Homo sapiens: one gene and its partner. The protein of the gene in region 1 interacts with the protein of each later gene in a pairwise test. Each region holds a gene or a part of one and is shown on either strand. Other genes may lie near its edges.

Region 1 (5,186 bases):
TTATGAATCTGTGTTCTTTTAGGAAGGTGCTGGATGGATGCTTTGGAGTTGGCTTTGAAATGTTCTAGTCTTCTTAAACGTACAATGATCAGAGAAGGAAAGGAACATGACCTGAGCGTTTCATCAGATAGCACACATGTGACTTTCTATGGCTTACTACGTGCTAACAATCTCCACAGTGGTGATAACTTCCAGTAAGTAGATACTGCCGCTGAGTTGGTAATGTTTCAGAGACCATACTGTTCACAAAATTAGTTGGCAGGCCTAGAATTTTAGTAGTGTATCTAGGACTGAAATTTGCATATCTTCCCATTATATGGCCTAGGAACCGGCTTAAAATTTGTTTAGCTGCTATAATCAGGTGTAGAAATGTATTTCCTTGATTCCAGCCAACGTGATTTACTTTATCTTTCCCAAATATAGCCATGCTAATTATTCACCTTGTCTGTGCATGATGTCCCTTCTATTAAGAATGATTTCTGCCTACTCCTCCTTACGCTTTTCTCCTGTCTATATATTCTTCAAGATCAGTCTCAAATATTACATCATGTGTGAAACCTTATAACTATGAGACATAATCTGTCTTTCTATAGAGTAACATGTTTTTAGTAATGGCACTGGACTTAACTCTACCTGGTATTTGTGAAATTCATTTATATTTCTGTTTGGAATGGAACTGTATCCTATTTGTGGTTTTATTCCCTGAAGCATTTATTGTAGTTAACACTAAAAAAGCATTTCTCCAAGGAAACTGGGCAGTAGTGCAAAGACTTTCTTGAGATTCAGGTCTTTTTGTTGCTTTGCAGGAAAAACATTAGACTTTTCTATTTCCTCCCTGTCCCCACCCCTTGGCTTCTGCTCTGTAACCACTTTCATCAGCATTGAGGTTGCTCTTCTCAAAGTTAGACTGCTATTCTCCTCTTCTTCATATTGCCTGATTTAGACATTTCTTCCCTATCATTTTGCTTGTTTCTTTTTTTTTTCTGTCTGTATTACTTTAAAAAATTTTTTAGAGCCAGGGACTCACTCTGTTGCCCAGGCTGCAGTGCAGTGGCACAATCATAGCTCACTGTAACCTGGAACTCCTGGGCTCAAGCCATCTTCCAGTCTCAACCTGCCCAGTAGTGAGAACTACAGGCCTGTATTACCACACTGGGCTGGCTGGCTGGCTTATCTATTTATTTATTTATTGAGACATAGTCTCACTATGTTGCCCAGGTTTTTTTTCTTTTCTTTTTTCCCCCACTCTCTTTAAAATCTCCATTACCTGACCTTTTATGTTATTTCTTTGCAGACCTACGATCTGGAGCTTTATCTTAATCCCAAGTACCTGGTGCCCGAATGAGATAGGATGGAATGGGGTGGGCTACTGATAGAGGAATGGGTATTTGTTGGAACCTCTTTCCAAGACTTTCCCCCTTTTGTACAGATTTTTTGCCCTAATCACTTTAAGTGAGAATAGGGTAGATTAAGCAAAACTTACTTGATTTTAGTCCATAGGTTAATTTCTTTCAGCTGAAATTTTCATTTTTAATTCTCTCTGGATTTTGGCTCAGGATTAAACCTTTCAGACGAATAGAATTTAATATAATTGTTTATCATTTACCATTTTCATATATTTTTCTTGGACTCATGTGAGGTGACTTTGGAAACCTTCTTATACAGGTGGAAAGTCATAATTTATTTGAGTTCAGTTGAGAATCTGATTATCTGGACCTGCATTTTTTCTTCATACCATAAGTGACAGTGAGATTGATGCAAGTGATGCTGTTTGAAAAACTAAGAAAAATATCTAACAAGAAGTCTAAACTCTTGGTTTTGGAGGATTTTAGCCCCAAGTGGTAGAGAGGCAAAGAGCTCAGAGTGTCATCTTTTTGCATTTCTCTAGGTTTTTAATTTTTCTATGCCTCTGTTTACTAATCTGTAAAATGAGAATAATAATACTACCTATCTCATAGGGTTATTTTGAAGATTAAGTGAATTAACACTATGTAAAACACTTAGAACACTGTCTGGCACATAGTAAATTCTCAATAAATGTTGTATATAATTATTATTTATGAATTGAGCATTCTTAACATCCTTGATTCTTCCTCCTAAAAATTCTTTCCCTTAAGGTTAAATGATAGTGAAATTGAACGACAACATTTTAAGGACCAAGATATGTATTCTGATAAATCTGATAAAGAAAATGATCAAGAACATGATGAGTCTGATAATGAGGTGATGGGGAAAAGTGAAGAAAGTGACACAGATACATCAGAAAGACAAGATGACTCATATATCGAACCTGAGCCTGTTGAGCCTTTAAAGGAGACTACCTACACTGAACAGAGCCATGAAGAACTTGGAGAGGTAAAAGTCTGCTATTTTTAGAGGTTCTGGATTTTCATATTCTTGGGAATTCTTAAATGAAATTGAAGATATTATTTGCTTGATCTATTGCCTATTTTTCTGTGATAGAATGTGATATTTTAAAAATTGCATACATATGAAATATATTGGGATTTACAAACAACTAAACACATATACTCACATAAATACCAATATATTCTATTAAATTTAAAGTTTACATTTTCTTCAAGCTTGATTTTGAAGTAGGATATTGCTTGATGTCATTGCCAGGTGCAAAGTTGCAAGGAAACGTGAGTTTATAACTTTGTTATTGCCAGTGCATCATAGAAGTAAATGTAGTATAAAATAATAGGCTATAATATTTTTGTAGTGGATCTCTTGTATATATTGTTCACTTTGATGTCTTTTTCAGCTACCCTTTTTTACCTAAGTTTTATAGCTATAGATTTTATTATTATTTTTTGTTTCCACATTTAAAGAATGCTTGGAGTAGTCCTGAGAAGAGTTCATATTTTCAACATTAGCTGGCTTGTTTACATATCTGTCTGAAATAAATATAATGTTTTGGTAATTTTCATTAATTGATAAAGGCAGGTGAGGCTTCTCAAACAGAAACTGTATCTGAAGAAAACAAAAGCCTTATCTGGACACTATTGAAACAAGTCCGTCCTGGCATGGACCTATCCAAGGTGGTTCTGCCTACATTTATTTTGGAACCCCGTTCTTTCCTGGATAAACTTTCAGATTACTACTATCATGCAGATTTCCTATCTGAGTAAGTAGATTCTTATTTCTTAAAATAGACAATACTTCATGATTTTAGAAATTCTCAAGAATGCTATTTTCAATTATCGTTTGTTTCCAAAATCAGGCTCTAATGAGACATCACTCTCTGTTCTCTACCACTTCTGTGGTTGACCCTTAGTAAGAAGCATGTTTGATACTTTGCTATAATGTTGCCATTTATGAAGTTAAATTGAGATATCATAAGCTCGAGGAAAACAAGAATTCTACCCTTTACTCAACAACACTGCCGTTATAGGCTCCTTAACCTCAGTTCACTAACCTAACAGAGAGAGAGAGGTGATTGGCATCATTTGTTCTCCTCTACAAAAACACTTGTTCAGTCCCATCCTGGGGCATCTGTGTTTGCTCATACTTGTCTGTCTGCATGCTTGTGAGGTATGTACGGCTTACCAGAACTAGAATGCCCTGCCAGTTGCTAGCTTTTGGAACAAATCCTTATTTTCTTTGCTTTTCTGAAGCCGCCAGCTGATCCTGGGTGTAATTTTGAAGAAGGCACACCTAAAGGAGGCAGAGGAGGTGCTATCCACCTCTGTCCCAGCAATTTCTTGGAAAACCAGTAAACTTTGCAAGGAACAGCAACTTTGTGTCCATGCTTCCAATTCTTACCTGATGCCCCTATTCCAGCAATAATGGTGTTTCAAGGCACTGTGCTTTCTGTGCCACTGATATCTGGCCCTGCGACCTAATTTTTAGAATCTTTATCAAGACTTATTTTCGGTTTTTGTCTATAAATGGCATGAGCGAACATTGAAAAAAATAAGCTGAGTCAAAAAATAATTGGTAAACTGGGAAATTTTTGCAAATTTCATCGTAGACAAAATGTTAACCTCCCTAAAAAAAGCTCTTAAAAATTGAATGAAAATGATTCTATAGAAAAGGAAACTTACAGAAAAAGGAGTGGAAGAAATTACTGGGCAGTTGGAAAATGAAGAAATAGGAACAGTCCTTAAACATGTAAAAACCTCATGCAAAATAAGGAAAATGTACATTTGAATTATAGTAAGTTATTGTTGTTTATCCACCACATTGACAAAAAGTCAAAAAGCTTTTATATCCTCGTTCTAATATCTTCTGCACTTTTGTCGGTCTAGAAATTCATTTCTCTCAGAATGTAAGGCAAATTCCTGTGAATCACAAGATTTTCTTGAGAGATGCCCCCTGTCTCAAATAGAAAGATTGTACTTTTCTGGCATTACACACTGTTGCCAAGATTCTGTTGGCAATCAGGGACTATCATACACTACCGTGGGCAGTGCAGACTAGCACAGCACCCTGAAGGTAATCTGGCAGTATTTACCAAAAGTATAGATGCATTCATCATTTGATCCACTAATCTCACTTCTCGGAATAACTCCTACAGATATAATGCCACATATACAGAATGGCATATATACAAGATTGTTGCAGCAGGGTTTGTAATAATAAAACATTAGATATAACTCCAGTGTCCAGCACAGTGTACTGGTTAAACAGTGTGTGATACATCCACCCATATAAGGAAGAATTCCATAAACTGATCTGTAGGGACCTCCAGAATTGTGTGTGAAAAAAGCAAGGTGTACAGAAGAGTATGTATAGTTTGCAACCCTTTTTTAAGAAAAGCAAGACTGTTTATTTATATATGCTTGTTTATGCCTAAAGAAAACTTAAAAGGAAGCTTTTTTAAAAAGTTACCTATAGAGGGTAAGTAGGAACAGTGTGGAGAGACGGGGCAGTAACAAGACATGTGTACCTCTTTATATTGCTTTGACTTTTGAACTATATATATTTAATTTTAAAATAAAATTGCATAGTAAGGGAATTTAAACCAAGATGGAAAGAGAGCAATCAGAGGGTTGTTACTCCAGAAAAGCACAAGCTTTCAACTTAGCACCATTGTCAATAAGCCTAGGTCTGTGCTCTTCTGTCTCACATCTCATCTTAAAAAATCACCACATTGGACTGTCAGACATGCTTGTGAAACGTAAATGCCTTTTTGTAAATAAGGGCATAGTAGCTACATTACAAACAGAAAACAACAATAA
Region 2 (5,186 bases), on another chromosome or scaffold:
TACTTGAGTTTATTACACTATTTTCCTACAGTTCAGAATTTTTTTTTAAGTAACCAGCAGCATATGTTACATATTTTGACAACTTAAAAAAAATCAAAAATCTTCAAAAATGTTTTGGAAGAATAACAAGATTTTTTCATCTTACCTTAAAAAAAATTAAGATGAGAGGTGAGTAGTTATCCTAGGAAACTCTGAAGTAAGCAATATAATTTAAGCAAAACCTCTATATTCTTCAACAACTATCTTTTTTCTTTAATCTCAATAACTGCCTCAGTTCTCATTTTTGTGAGTATAAATAACAGGCCCCCTTTTTTATTTAATTGGGGTTAAAGTCAATTTTATAGGAAATTTCTAGTTGATCTGTGACTTGAATTACTAGCATATATGTTACATTTATAAGTACAGCTGGGGCTGGGCGTGATGGCTCACGCCTATAAACCCAGCACTTTGGGAGGCCGAGGCGGGTGGATCACCTGAGGTCAGGAGTTCAAGACCAGCCTGGCCAGCATGGTGAAACCTCATCTCTACTAAAAATACAAAAATTAGCTGGGCGTGGTGGTGGGCACCTGTAATCCCAGCTACTTAGGAGGCTGAGGCAGGAGAATCACTTGAACACCTGGGAGGTGGAGATTGTAGTGGGCCGAGATTGCACCCATTGCACTCCAGCCTGGGCAACAGAGTGAGACTCCGTCTCAAAAAAAAAAAAAAAAAAATCAGCCAGTGGCGCATGCCTGTAATTCTAGCACTTTGGGTAGCTGAAGTGGGTGGATCTCTTGAGCCTAGGAGTTTGGGACCAGCCTCAGCAACATGGTGAAACCCTGTCTCTAAAAATGTATATAAATTAGCTGAGCATGGTGGTACACTCCTGTAGTCCCAGCCTCTTGGGAGGTTTGAAGTTGGAGGATCGATCACCTGAGCCCAGGAGGTAGAGTCTGCAGTGAGTTGTGATTGTGCCACTGCACTCCAGCCTGGGCAACAGAGTGAAACCCATCTCAAAAAAATAAAAATACATCAGAATGTTTTATTGTACAACCAATTTCATTGGTACATACAAAAATGTAATCAAAACAATGGACTTTTTTTGATGTTTTAAACAATTTTTTTTTTAGGAATTAGTAGAAAGAAAATAAGGGAAAGAAAATGGGGTTATGTTTATGAATACTTAAATAGACCAGAAGTAGAAAACTGTGGTTTGCTTGCTGGCATTGAGCTGTATTAGGATATTAAATGTGTAGGGTCAAGTTCTGTGATGATTCAATCTTTGCCTTGTATTGATGGCATGTCCAGATCTCTTTGTTTTTATGGACATTTTTTGCTTTGCTGATGTGACTTCAAGATTTGTAAGTTTTTAATTTTATTCTTAGGTATGGAGAGAAAAACAATGCATTCATTGTTGCCAGCTTTGAAAATAAAGATGAGAACAAGGATGAGATCTCCAGGAAAGTTACCAGGGCCCTTGATAAGGTTACCTCTGATTATCATTCAGGATCCTCTTCTTCAGATGAAGAAACAAGTAAGGAAATGGAAGTGAAACCCAGTTCGGTGACTGCAGCCGCAAGTCCTGTGTACCAGGTAACCATGAAAACAGCTCAGTTTTAAAGGGATGTGCAGGGATTGCCAGGACCTTTCAGGTAGTCCTACTTGGCATTGCCCAAGGTTTCTGACTTGAGATTCTGGATAATAGTTCTTGCCTTTCCCCATGCTAAGGGAAAGCTGTTTCTCTGGCACGTAAATAGGCATCCTGAGTCATTTTATCAAAGGTCAGCTTCACTATACAATAACTAGGATAAATATATTTCAGAAAAATTGGCAAAAAGTAGAAAATTCATGATGGTAAAACATTCCTGATATTTTAAAATCTCATTCAAAAGTTACCACTTATTTTTTGTAGTATGTAACACTTTGTTTTGTACCTTTGGGTTTAACTTTCTATTCTCTCCCGTTCCATGATTAAAGAGAAACCTCTCTAAATTTATTATATTATAATTAATATTTTACTCAAGCTGAAACATTGTCTCCCTTTTTGCTTTACTAGTTGAAAAGTCATATAGCTAGTGTGCCTGCACTTACAGATCCATTCACTGATTTACTATTTATATCTACATACCAAAGAACATTTAATCGACTTTAAAAAATTGTTGACCAAACAGCATTCTTCAACAGGAAAGATATTTTAAAGTCATAACAATTTAAAGAGATTTTTTGAGTTGAGCCTTATTCTGTAAATGTACTTATTACTAATTTTTAAAGGTTATCTATTTTTACTTACTTGCTTTGATTAAATGTGAAACATACCAGGTTTGTGGTAAGGTTGAGCTGAAAATGAAAATTTAGACCTAATGAGTAAGAAGCAGAATATTGGAGCTTTTAGTATGATAAACTAAACTTTTAAATTCAGCATACATTTACATAATGAACATTATTTCAGTGTAACTTAATTTTTGGTTTTCTCATTTTTTTCTCAGTTGAATTATTCTTCCTAGACTTTAGGGGAAGATTATTTCTGAAGATTATCATAATTTAGGATTCTATGTATATGTGTATGTATATGTATATGTATATAACATGTACCTGGCTTTATGAAACTTCAAACAGTACAAGACAGTATAATAGTGAGAAGTCCTCTTTCTCCCCAACCACCAGTCCCTATGCATTTCCACAGAGACATTCATTACCAGGTTTTTTTTTCTTTTTTTTAGTATCCTTCCAGAGACATTCCCTATATAAATAAGTAAACATAGTATTTGTACTTCAGGATCATTTTTAAAAACCTTGCCATAAATATTTGAGGCATTTTTTTTCTCTGTGTGATGGATTATATATTGCAAATTAGGTATATTGAATTTTCTGGAATTCATCCAAATGTGTGGCAATTTTACCTCAGAATTTTATTTGTTGTTAAGCAAGAATGTAAGTCTCAAATTAAATTGATTGCTGCTAATTTTTTACAAGCAAATTAACCTTTAATTTTTAGGATTTCTTTTAAAATTAAATTGCATTTATTTTCCCTCATGTTGAAAGACTATTAGGATAACAGAAAGGTATGGAAATTGAGGTGTCTCTTACGTGCTTTTTAAGGAAAACATTTCTCCTTGGCCTAATACTCATTAGCAAAACATTTTATAATAGAGAAACACTACTTGTGTGAAAGCTAGTGCAAATGGCCCACTTTGATTTTCTTCTTTCTAGTATCTTGAATCTGGCATTGCCACAAGCTTTAAAAAAGTTTTATCAAATAAGGACAACAAAATTTCTAGCTTGGAATTTTTGTTCTCTACTGTTTTCTAAAAGGTATCCCAAGAGAGGGGATAAAGAATTATTCATATCTTAAAAAACGAAGAAATGAAGATTGTGTCAGTTCTCCTGAAATAGATCTGTAGATCCAATTCAGTATCAATGAACATCTTAAAAGGTTTTTTTCTGGAAAGTGACAAATTGATTCAAAATTTTAAAAAAGGAGGATCAGTTGGAGGGCTCACACTAATTCAAAGCTATTATATATTCATCAAGACAGTGTGGTAATGGTTTAAAAACATACAAATATATTGATGGCACAGGATAGAGAGTCCAGAAGTAGACCCACATACATACAGTTAGTCTTTTTTCTCCCTTTTAACAAAAGTGCCAAAGCAATTCAATGGGGAAAGTCTTCAAGAACTTGTGCTGAAACAACTGGATGATCTGTGTAGGAAAAAAAACGAACCTAACTTAGCTGACACCATACACAAAAATATTGATTTGAGATGGATTGTGTACCTAGACATAAAAGATAAATCTCTGACGCTTTTAGAAGAAAACATAGGGAAATATAATCTTTATTTTGTGACAGGCAAATATTTCCTCTAGAGGGTCACAAAAAGTAACTAATAAGGGAAAAAAATTGACAAACTGGACTTCATCAAAATTAATCATCTTTTTGTTCATCAAAGAAACCATTAAGAAAATGGGCAAACCATAGACTAGGACAAAATATTCTCATTACATATATCTGTAAAGGACTTATTTCCAGAATATACTTTTTTTAAAATCGCTCACAAATCACTAGTAAAAGGTAAATGATTCAATGAAAAATAATGGGCATATCCTGCTGTAATCTCAAAAAAAGGGCAGGAGGAGCAAAAGATGTGAATAAACACTTTACAAAAGGAGTTATGTGAATGGCCTCATTTATGATCAGAGGAATGCAGATTAAATCCATATGAAACACTAGTTCTTCCAGAACTGCACAATTTAAAAGCCTGACAGCATGAAATGTTAGCAAGGATGTGAAGCAGCTAGATTCATAAACTTGCTAGTCATGTAAAATAGTACCACTACTTTGGAAAACTGGAACTTTTTAACGTTAAATGTGTAACTCTTCTATTACTCAGCAGTTCCACTCCTAAGTATTAAATATTTACCAAAAGAAACGAAAATATGCCTATAAAGCCTTCTATTAGAATTAACTGTGCTGTTATTCATTGCAGCATTGTTTTGTTCGTTGTGTATCATTGTTTTTTTAATAGTAAGAGACTGAAAACAGCCTCAATGTCCCATTACTAGGAGACCATTTAATTTATAGTCATTGCTATACTATCTAGCTGTAGAAAAATGAGAAGGATCTTTATGTATTGATATGTTTCTGAAATGTATTATTATGAAATGTAAAAAGCAGGATACAATCCAGTATACATATATATTTTTAAAGTGTGTATAGATGTGGATAGAATATCTCTAAAGGTATATTTAAAAAAATGTTTGGTGTCAGTTGCCCTTGAGAAGGGTTAAGATAAAGAAGATAAAGGGTGAGATAAAAAAAGAGGGACTTTCCACAGTTTACCCTTTTGTACTTTTTGAATTTTCTATCATGAATGCAATGCTATACACAATATAATTTTTTTAAAAAAATCCTATACTTAGAAATGCAGATTTGAGATCAGCAAAATCAGAAATTTAAGAAGATGTGGCATTCTAAGCAGAGAGGTCTAAAACTGCTGATAAGAACACTTTGAATAATGTGAACCTGACGTGCCCACCTGATTTATGGGATAATCTAAAACTATTATTCCCAAATACTAAACTGGCTACATCAGAATCACCTGGGGAGCTTTGTCAAAATACCTGGCCTCTAGTTCTGAGATTTTATTATTGTTCATTAGACCAGTGCTAGGGCATGAATGTTTTGTGTTTATCTTTTTTTTTTTTTA

The links. The genes of interacting proteins can lie anywhere in the genome.
Region 2: the proteins of OSBPL8 (region 1) and BTG3 interact in a two-hybrid assay, tested with the Homo sapiens proteins (one large-scale study listed by BioGRID and IntAct).

Annotation. Positions count from the first base shown.
Region 1 is NC_000012.12:76,387,589-76,392,774, reverse strand, and holds part of OSBPL8 (oxysterol-binding protein-related protein 8), read left to right. Parts: intron 1-22; coding exon 23-194; intron 195-2,117; coding exon 2,118-2,355; intron 2,356-2,945; coding exon 2,946-3,130; intron 3,131-5,186. UniProt on the Homo sapiens protein: Lipid transporter involved in lipid countertransport between the endoplasmic reticulum and the plasma membrane: specifically exchanges phosphatidylserine with phosphatidylinositol 4-phosphate (PI4P), delivering phosphatidylserine to the plasma membrane in exchange for PI4P, which is degraded by the SAC1/SACM1L phosphatase in the endoplasmic reticulum.
Region 2 is NC_000021.9:17,595,003-17,600,188, reverse strand, and holds part of BTG3 (protein BTG3), read left to right. Parts: intron 1-1,364; coding exon 1,365-1,572; intron 1,573-5,186. UniProt on the Homo sapiens protein: Overexpression impairs serum-induced cell cycle progression from the G0/G1 to S phase.